Linked DNA regions of Homo sapiens: region 1 is linked to region 2. The links come from fine-mapping of genetic effects on gene expression. A gene starts in region 2. The other region holds a variant in brackets. All regions are shown on one strand. Distances are between the middles of the regions. Region 1 holds the start of DNLZ (DNL-type zinc finger). Region 2 holds the start of SNAPC4 (small nuclear RNA activating complex polypeptide 4).

Region 1 (4,310 bases), 36 kb after region 2:
AGAGGCGAGCAGGACCCAGGAGTCCGGCTCAGGCACTGCCCCCATCCCCCTGGGTGGCTGTGGCAGGAGCAGGGGCAGGTGTGAAGGTTGGAGGGTGAGCAGGGGAGGGGCTGGCTCTAAGGGGCTGCCAATGGCCAGGACAGCCCTGGCCTGGCCCTCACCGCAGTGGGGCTGAGACTGGACGTGCGTGGTTTCTGCCCAAGGGTCCTGATCCCTGGTCTGCCCAGGTCCTGGCGGTTTCTGAGGGGGTCCAGCCGCCTGAAGGTTCTCTCCCAATTGCTGCAGTACCCCTGCCCCCACTTCAGGAGGACCCAGACAGCCACTGTAGCTGTCCCCAACTCTCTCCCCAGGGCCGCCATGCCCACAGATGCTTTGGAGTGATGGGGGACGGTGCTGCTCAGGCCCAGGGTTTAAGTTCCCCCGAGGTCTGGGAGGCGTTCCTCCCTGGCAGGCAGCCAGCTCGGGGGAGGGATGGTCACTGGCGGGAGCGTTGGGCCTGGGCTGGCATCTGGCGGCCTCCTGGAGCAATGAACAGGCAAGCGAGGCCATAAGGCCTCAGTCTCATCTACAGAAAGCAGAGTCTACACTGGACCCATGTGGGGATCCCACCAGGCCTTGGAAGACAGCCCCACTGCAATGCCGGGGAGGGGTGGGGCAGCCGTGCTATACGTGGCCCAGCAGATGGGCAGGTCCCACAGGCACGACTCTCCTTTCCAGGCTGCCTTGCCGGCGGGGGGAGCCCGAAACAGCCCTTTGCAGCTCTGCACCAGGAGCAGGTTTTGCGGAACCCCCATGTAAGGCTTCCCCGGGGTGGGGTCCTCCCAGCCGTGGGCCTCAGGGTGACCGATCACAGGGAGAGTGGCTCCCTGCCCTGGGCACCCCCTGCGGTGGCCCCGACGACAGCTGAGGAGTGACCACAAGGTCTCTGCCCACAGTGCTCGGGGTGCGGTGTCTGGGCTGCGAAGTGGATCCCCCTTTCTTGGGCACTGCAGCAGCTTGGGGGGCTTTTTGGACGTGGATGTGCCTGGTCCTGGTTTTCCGAGGGCCTTTACAGTGGATGAGGAGGTGAACACAGGAGTCCTGAGAGCAAGCACCACCTCGGGCTTTGTTGTAGAAACAATGGCCCGGACCCCAGGCTGGAGCCGTGGCTTGGCCTCCTGGGTGTGTCTTGGCATCTGAAATGCAGGCTACCCACACCGGCTCACCTCCAGGGGTACAGGCAGGTCCCACAGGGAGAGCTTGGCGCTGAGCTGAGGCTGTCTGGGCTCCTCGCCTCCCAACCAGTCTGCAGTTACAGGGGCCAGTGGGGGGCGGGTGAGAAGGACGGGTTCCCTCAGGGGAGCCGGCCGGAGCCCGAGCCTTCCCCCTTCTCCAGGACGCAGGCCTGAGCAGCGGGGAGCCGCCCGAGAAGGAGCGGCGGCGCCTCAAAGAGAGTTTTGAGAACTACCGCAGGTAGGCGGGCGGCCCCCAGGCTTCTCCAAAACGGGCTGGGGAGCGGCAGCCGGGTCGCGCCTGAGACACCTGTCTTCACAGGAAGCGCGCCCTCAGGAAGATGCAGAAAGGATGGCGGCAGGGGGAGGAGGACCGGGAGAACACCACGGGCAGCGACAACACCGACACTGAGGGCTCCTAGCCGCAGCAGCGCAGGCCCCGACCAGGGCACACCCACCGGCCCGGCCTCCTGCCACCCGGGGGTGCCGACGCCCTGGGGCGCAGACTTCCCCGAGCCGTCGCTGACTTGGCCTGGAACGAGGAATCTGGTGCCCTGAAAGGCCCAGCCGGACTGCCGGGCATTGGGGCCGTTTGTTAAGCGGCACTCATTTTGCGGAGGCCATGCGGGTGCTCACCACCCCCATGCACACGCCATCTGTGTAACTTCAGGATCTGTTCTGTTTCACCATGTAACACACAATACATGCATGCATTGTATTAGTGTTAGAAAACACAGCTGCGTAAATAAACAGCACGGGTGACCCGCATTCCCGCTCGGACACTCGCGCGCAGCCCCGCGGCCGTCCCTCCTCGCTGCGGCCCGCGGTGTCCTCGGGGTGCGAGCTGCACGTGGACGCAGGGCCCCCTCAGGCCGCCAGGGGGCGGCATAGCGCAGCGCGCCCCCGACCCGGAAGACGGAAGCCCAAGAACGCCGCTTCCGCCCGGCGCCCACTTCCAAGATGGCGGCGGGGCGGGGCCGGGGCAGGGCGGACGGAGCCGGCGAGCGGGATGCTGCGGACTGCGCTGCGCGGCGCGCCGAGGTTGCTGAGTCGCGTGCAGCCCCGGGCGCCCTGCCTGAGGCGGCTGTGGGGCCGCGGGGCCCGTCCAGAGGTCGCGGGGAGGCGGCGGGCCTGGGCCTGGGGCTGGCGGCGCTCAAGCTCCGAGCAGGGGCCGGGGCCCGCGGCGGCTCTGGGGCGCGTGGAGGCGGCGCACTACCAGCTCGTCTACACCTGCAAGGTAGGCGCGCGGCGGGACGGAACCGGGGACAGACC[C/T]GTATCTGACGCTACACGGCCTGCGGGGAGAAGCGGCCCGCCGGGGATCCGGGAGGCGGCGTGGTCAAGTCACAGGAAGGAGTGGAGCCACCCCTTGGGGCTTCTGGGAGGGAGCGGAGGCGGACCATGAGGAGGGGTGGAGCCGTCCCTGGGGCGGGGCCTTCCCGGGAGAGGGCGAGGTTGGGGGTGGGTGGAGCTATCCCTCGGGGGCGGGGCCTTCTCTGGAGAGGGTGAGGTGGCTGGAGCTACCCCTAGAGGGGCGGGTCTTCCCGGGAGGGGCGTGGCGGCCCTCACAGCCTCACCAGCTACCCTGTCCCAGCCAGGTCTGCGGGACTAGGTCCTCCAAGCGCATCTCCAAGCTGGCCTATCACCAAGGCGTGGTCATTGTGACCTGCCCCGGCTGCCAGAACCACCATATCATCGCTGACAACCTGGGCTGGTTCTCGGACCTGAATGGGAAGAGGTGAGGCCTGTACCCCAGGGCTGGGCCAGAAGGCCACCCAGAAGTACCCTGGCCTCCCTGGGGGAACCTTGCCCTAGTGTTGAGGTTTATAGATCTCACCTGGGAAATCCAGCCACCTTATCAATACAAGACACACAGTTAAATGAGAATTTCCTATAAAGCCCAGATAGCTTTTGAGTTTAAGTATGCCCCAAGTAGGGGGTGCGTTTTTATTTGTTAAATTTTGCCAGCCCTGTGGCCCTGCCTCCCTGCCTCTGCCTGCCCTCTGCCATCACTGGCAGCCTTGTCCCTCTCTAGCGTGGAACTTTTTTGCCCTCTGCCATCTTGGGGTGGCTGGCCCACAGCAAGGCTTGGGGTGTGGACCAGGAGGTGTGGCCTGGGCCCTGGCTGCTGGGAGAGCAGTGGAGGTGGTGCCGGGAGCCTGGTCCGGGCCTTGCCTGGCCGGGAGGTCCTGGGCAGGACAGTAACAGCGACAGCAGGTCTGAGACCAGCATGCCAGGTGCTTGGTGGTACCTGGCCCTTGGAGCTGGGACTGTCCTCCCATCAGACCCGGGGCTGCAGATTCTTCCCTCTGGCACATAGGGGGCAGGAGCAGGAGACTGGGTTCCTGAGGCGGCGCATACCGGCAGAGACACAGGGCTGGTGAGGGCACACAGGCCAGCGTCTGAAGTGCCCGTGTGGCCTGATGCCACAGGAGTGCTGGGCCTGGTGCTTGCAGCTCTGGCCTGGCCATGGGGCGCCCTGAGGGGACTGAAGTGCAGGGCGGCTGGGGGGCCCTGAAGAGCCATGTTGCCTCCCTGCCCCCCAGAAATATCGAAGAGATCCTGACGGCCAGAGGCGAGCAGGTGCACCGTGTGGCGGGCGAGGGGGCCCTGGAACTGGTTCTGGAGGCTGCAGGGGCCCCCACATCCACTGCAGCTCCGGAAGCGGGTGAGGATGAGGGTCCCCCCAGCCCTGGCAAGACGGAGCCGAGCTGACTCCTGCGCTCCCCGGCACTGTGGGACTTCGGCCTTCCAGAAGGAGGTTTTGGCCCTGGGCCTCTCTGGACGTGGCCTGTTTTCTATCAATAAACAGACATTACTTCCAGATGCTGGGGCCTGTGGCCCTCGTGGCCTTTCTTTTTCTGGAGTTAGAACGATTGCTCTGAATCCCTGGTGCTGCTGGGTGGGACATAGGAGCCGCAGGACCTCTCGCCTCACCACAGTTCCTTCTACACAGAGTCACCCAGCTCTTGCCCACAGAGGCCACAGTCGCGTGGAAAGGGGGCTGGATGTGGCGTCAGAGCCCTTCCTGGCTGTCGCTGCGTGACTTTGAGCAGGTCACCACCCCTGTGAGCCTCAGCCTTCCTCTGCAAGGCCCTTGCC
Region 2 (4,366 bases):
CTTCCGCCGATGCTCAGGGCTCCCTCTGGCTCCCGGGTCACTCTTGTGGCCCCAGTGGGTGGTCCCTGCAGTCATGGCCTGAGTGCGCAGGGGCCACCGCGTGGCTGCTGCTGTCCTCCTCCGGGACCCACGGGGACCAAGGTCACACGTTCCGTGCTGTGAAGCTGTCCAGATGTGCCTCTTTGGCTGGGGGTTCTGGTGGACGTTTCAAGTGGCATTTTGTACAATGCAGGTTAGAATTCAGGAATTTCAAGTATGTGCCCGGGTCTGTCAGGTCCCAGTTGCCTTTCTGACGGCCCCCCTCAGAGGGACGGCGATGAGCACTAAATGCTTTTTTGACTATTTTCCTATAGATTTTTTTTAAAACTTTTTTTTCCTCCTGTTCCAATTGATAGCTTTCTTATTTAATAAATTCTGTAGTTCACCGCACTGTCTCTTCTCTGCTGACTTAGCCAGTCCTTGGAGAACGCCGTGGGCTTCCACACCTCACTTGCTCTTGCCCTAACTGGTGCCTTGTGCTGGCAGATTCTCTCCAGGTCCTCAGCCCTTGGGGTTAGGGGCAGACTCAGACCACTGCTGCCTGGGCCTGACCACTGGGACCCACACGTGATGGACGTGTGAGTCACGCAGCTGCACGTTTCAGAGCTGGACAGACTGGATTCTAGCATTGGATCATCTTTTCGGATCATGTGGTTGAATTTTTCAAACAAGGCGTCTGAATTGCTAGACCCCTAGCCTTAGCTACAGGTGAAGGCCAGAGCTTTCCAGCAGTCACTGTGGAGCGGTCCTGCTGCGTAGCCCTATGCGCCTCCTGCTCCTGCTGGTTGGTGAAAGCAGGCTCTGGATTCTGTTGGCAGAGCTGACTTGAGACAGGGTGCTGTGGTTGGGAAGTGCCGGAATGAGGTTCTGAGTGTATAGGCAGCTCTGGGAGCCCTGTAGCAGCAGGATGGGGGCATCTGGGGAGGATGCCTCAGGCCACAGGCCTTCCCTGAGGCCCTTTGGGAGAGACAGCATTTGATGGGGTGGGGGTCACAAAGGCCAGATCGCCAGGCGGGTCCCATCCACCAGATGCGTGTGAAGTGGGGTGGTCCCCTGGCCCTCATGCCAGCAGCTCATGGAGCAGGTGGGGCCCAGGGAAGCGCGGTGGGGATGGGCATGTGGGTTTTGCGCACCCCTCTCTTTTGATGTCTGTGTTTGAAGCGTTTGATAGTAAGAAGTTTAAAAATACAATTTGTGGCGCGGTATTTAGTGCCTGCCTTCTGCCTCCAGATTTCAAGCCCGATGCAGGGACTGAAACGAGGCGCTCGAGGAGCCCCCAGCCGCCTGGTTCCATCCCCTCCATCTGTTTCTTGCCAATCCCTAGCTCCCAGTTTGGCCTCACCTGGGCCTAGCCCTTTGCCACCAAAAGCCCACCTCCTAGGTAGGCAGGGCAAACCCTCTTTATAGTTCTCCAGCTGATGCCCCTAGCTCACCCCAGGCTGGAGTGGAGGCCCCCTCAACTGGCTGGGCCCAGGATGTCTTTGCAGCACCGATACTTAGAAGCTCTCAGGAGCCAGGAACTGTAGGCCCCTGCCCAGCTCCCGGCCGAGTTAGCCCTGGCACGTTCCTGAAGGAATGAATGCCCACTTAGGGGAGGGCCCCGGGGCAGCTCTCCAGGCCAGGAGACCCCAGAGGGTGTGCACAGGTGACCAGGGAAGCGAGTTTGTGTGGTGCGGGCCCCCACCCTCTGGCCTCAGTCTCCTGCACGTGCCTGGAGATCGGCCTGGCCTCGGCGATCCTGAGCATGCAGGGCAGGCTGGGGAAAAAGCCTTTCACGTAGACTTTCTCATCCGTTGCTTAACCAAACCCCAACATGTCCGTTAACAGAGGATGAAACAAGCACAGAGAGGTCCAGCGATGGCCGAAGGTCACAGCCAGTAAGGGCCGGTCTTCCGGATCGTGACCAGGTGGCCGGGTGCCTGTCCCTGTCTGTCCCCTGCCTTGAGGTCCCGCGTCCACCCGCGCCCCTCCAGAGCGCGCGGAGGCGGCCCCCAGGGCGGCCGCGCGAGGGCAGCATCGAGCCGTTCGCCTCTCTAGTCCCGGCAGGCCGCAGCGGCCGTCCCGGCGTGCCCCGCGCCTCAGGAGGCGGGACTTCCGGCGCGCGGCGCTCTTGTTCTGCAGCCGCCGGAAGCGTCGAGTCTGCAGTCGCCCGGGCGACGGCGGGGTCCGCGCGGCCAGGTAAGGTGTGCGCCCAGCAGGTGAGGCGCGGGTGGCGTCGGCAGCTTCAGGGCTCTCCCCGTGGAGGGGGCGCTGTCCCGAGGAGCGGATAGCCGAGGCCCGGGACGGGGGCGGGGCAGCGCCCAAAGTCGGGGAAACTGAGGCCCGGCGTGGCCCCCGTCCGGCCGAGCCTGGGCGCGCGGGGATTCTGGCCCTGGGAGCCCCTCGGCTGGGAGCGGGCTGCGGGCTCCGAGGAGGCTCCGGCGGGGCGGCCCCGGCTGCAGGGCGCCCGCGTGCGTCTCGGGGACTGCGCCGGCGATTCCGCGGTGGCCGAGCCTCGGAGGGGGTTTCCCCAGTTCACGCAGCGAGCAGGAGGCGGAACTGGGCCTGGGCCGGGTCTGTCTCCCAAGCCAGTGCCTAAACGCCCATCGTCCTGGCGCATCCTGGGGTTCCCTGGGCCCAGCCGAGTCTGGGTGGCGTCCCCGCAGCTGGGGCTGGAGGGACCGCCTGCTGCGCTCCGTCTTGGTGGGCAGCCCTCATGACCAGCCCTTGGGAGAGGGGTGCGGGGAGAGGGACAGCCCCTGATGTCAGTGGCTCAGCACGTGTGACTTTGACCTCCTTCCTGCTGATCATTGCTCACCTGAGCGACACGGGGAGGGGGAGGCAGCAGCCTCGTGTGAGGCTTCCAGAGGAAAGCGTCTCCGCCGGCCCGGAGGCGCTGAACCAGCCTGCGGTCGCTGCCAGCTCTGCCTCTGGCCGGCTGTTAACTGAGTTTACAGGTTCACAAGCATTTCGGGCATAAACAAGGGGCTTTGTGAAGGAGTGAGGGGACCTGGGCTGCTGATGCGGCTAACGGTGCTCGCGGGTGGATGCTTTGGTTTTGTTCCAGTTGGGCAGGGCCCCAGTCAGCCTCCAGCAGGGAGAGCCACGCCAAGGACGGGGGAGGGCGTTTCTCTTTGTTGTTGGGTGTTTTGGGCTCCCGGGTCTGTGCTAGTGATTCCTTTAGATTTTCTCTGCTAATGTTTCATTCTCCCACTCTCTCTCTAGCGTCCTTCTCCCTTCAGACTTCCTGGACCACAGTTCCTAAGAAAAAAGCTTGACAAACATTTGTTAGTGTCAGGCACTGCCACGTTCCAGGCGTTGTTCTGGATGTACAGAGAACAGCCAGCCTTCCCTTTGGGAGCTTCCTTCCCAACCATGCTGTTAGTGCCTGCCACCTGGGCAGTCTCAGTGTGTGTCTCTGTGAACGTTTCTCAAATGCCCTCTGTGGTCCGGCTCTGTGTCATGGGAGAGCAGGATGGCCAAAGTGGGTCACGGGCTGTGTCCTTGCCCTGTAGTGACTTTGCCACTGCACCCCACACCTTCTACGCTGGGTGGCCAGTTTCCATGTGGCTTGGTGTGGGAGCAGAGACGGGACAGTGGGGCCTGTCCTTGTTCATCCACTCCCTGCCTGTGCTGGTTGCAGCCTCAGAGCAGGCGGGAGATGTTCTTGGGGCTTAGGCTCCTGGCAGAGCACATAGCAGGAGTTTGTGGGGTCTGAGGTTCCTGTCCCAGGGTTCCCCGATTCTGTGCCTGGCCTATTAATCTTTCTCTGGGGAGCCCAGTGCCCACTGCCGAGCAGGCTCCTGCCATCCCCCATGGGCGGGTGTGTCTGAAGGAGAATGGGATCCCGGCACGGTCTTGGTTTCTAACATCTCGGGGTGTGTTTTGGAGGCAGGCGGGAGTCATGGATGTAGATGCTGAAAGAGAGAAGATAACACAGGAGATCAAGGAGCTGGAAAGGATTTTGGATCCCGGCTCCTCGGGCTCCCACGTGGAGATCTCAGAATCAAGTCTCGAGTCAGATTCTGAAGCAGGTAAGCCCCTTGTACCTAGCCTCCTGGGGTCCTGGTAAGAACAGCTGGTCTGCCTCCTGGGTTCCTCTCAGGCACATTAGGGAGTGATGGTAGCCGGGTGTGGTTTCTCAGGCCTGTAAACCCAGGGACTCCTGAGGCTGAGGTGAGAGCATTGTTTGATCCCAGGAGTTCATGTCCAGCCTGGACAACGCAGCAAGACCCTGTCTCTAAAAATAATAATAATAATAATAAACGATGGCTGGTGCTGCTTGGACCAGACCCAATTTTTTGCCAACACTGGTGTCTTTCTGTACTCCAGCCAGAGAGCTTCTGAC

The links. PIP is the estimated chance that this variant, and not a neighbour inherited with it, causes the effect.
Region 1: its variant is fine-mapped to the expression of SNAPC4 in whole blood (TOPMed, PIP above 0.99).

The regions. Positions count from the first base shown.
Region 1 is chr9:136,361,625-136,365,934 of GRCh38, reverse strand. DNLZ (DNL-type zinc finger) reads left to right here and starts at 2,191. Exons shown (of 3, transcript NM_001080849.3): 1 at 2,191-2,448; 2 at 2,807-2,946; 3 at 3,755-4,310. The coding sequence starts at 2,221. The coding sequence ends at 3,923. CARD9 (caspase recruitment domain family member 9) reads left to right here. Exons shown (of 13, transcript NM_052813.5): 11 at 718-794; 12 at 1,376-1,452; 13 at 1,534-1,979. The coding sequence ends at 1,633. LOC124902309 (a long non-coding RNA gene) reads right to left here and starts at 2,566. Exons shown (of 2, transcript XR_007061863.1): 1 at 2,483-2,566. RefSeq lists enhancers at 1-723, 724-1,614 and silencers at 1,826-1,925, 1,956-2,455, 2,556-2,835. The variant C/T (reference allele first, on the strand shown) is at 2,484.
Region 2 is chr9:136,397,985-136,402,350 of GRCh38, reverse strand. SNAPC4 (small nuclear RNA activating complex polypeptide 4) reads left to right here and starts at 2,181. Exons shown (of 24, transcript NM_003086.4): 1 at 2,181-2,217; 2 at 3,914-4,052. The coding sequence starts at 3,923. It overlaps ENTR1 (endosome associated trafficking regulator 1), which reads left to right. Exons shown (of 10, transcript NM_001039707.2): 10 at 1-429. RefSeq lists silencers at 1,734-1,783, 1,934-2,143, 2,214-2,343, 2,414-2,523 and enhancers at 1,032-1,968, 3,698-4,366.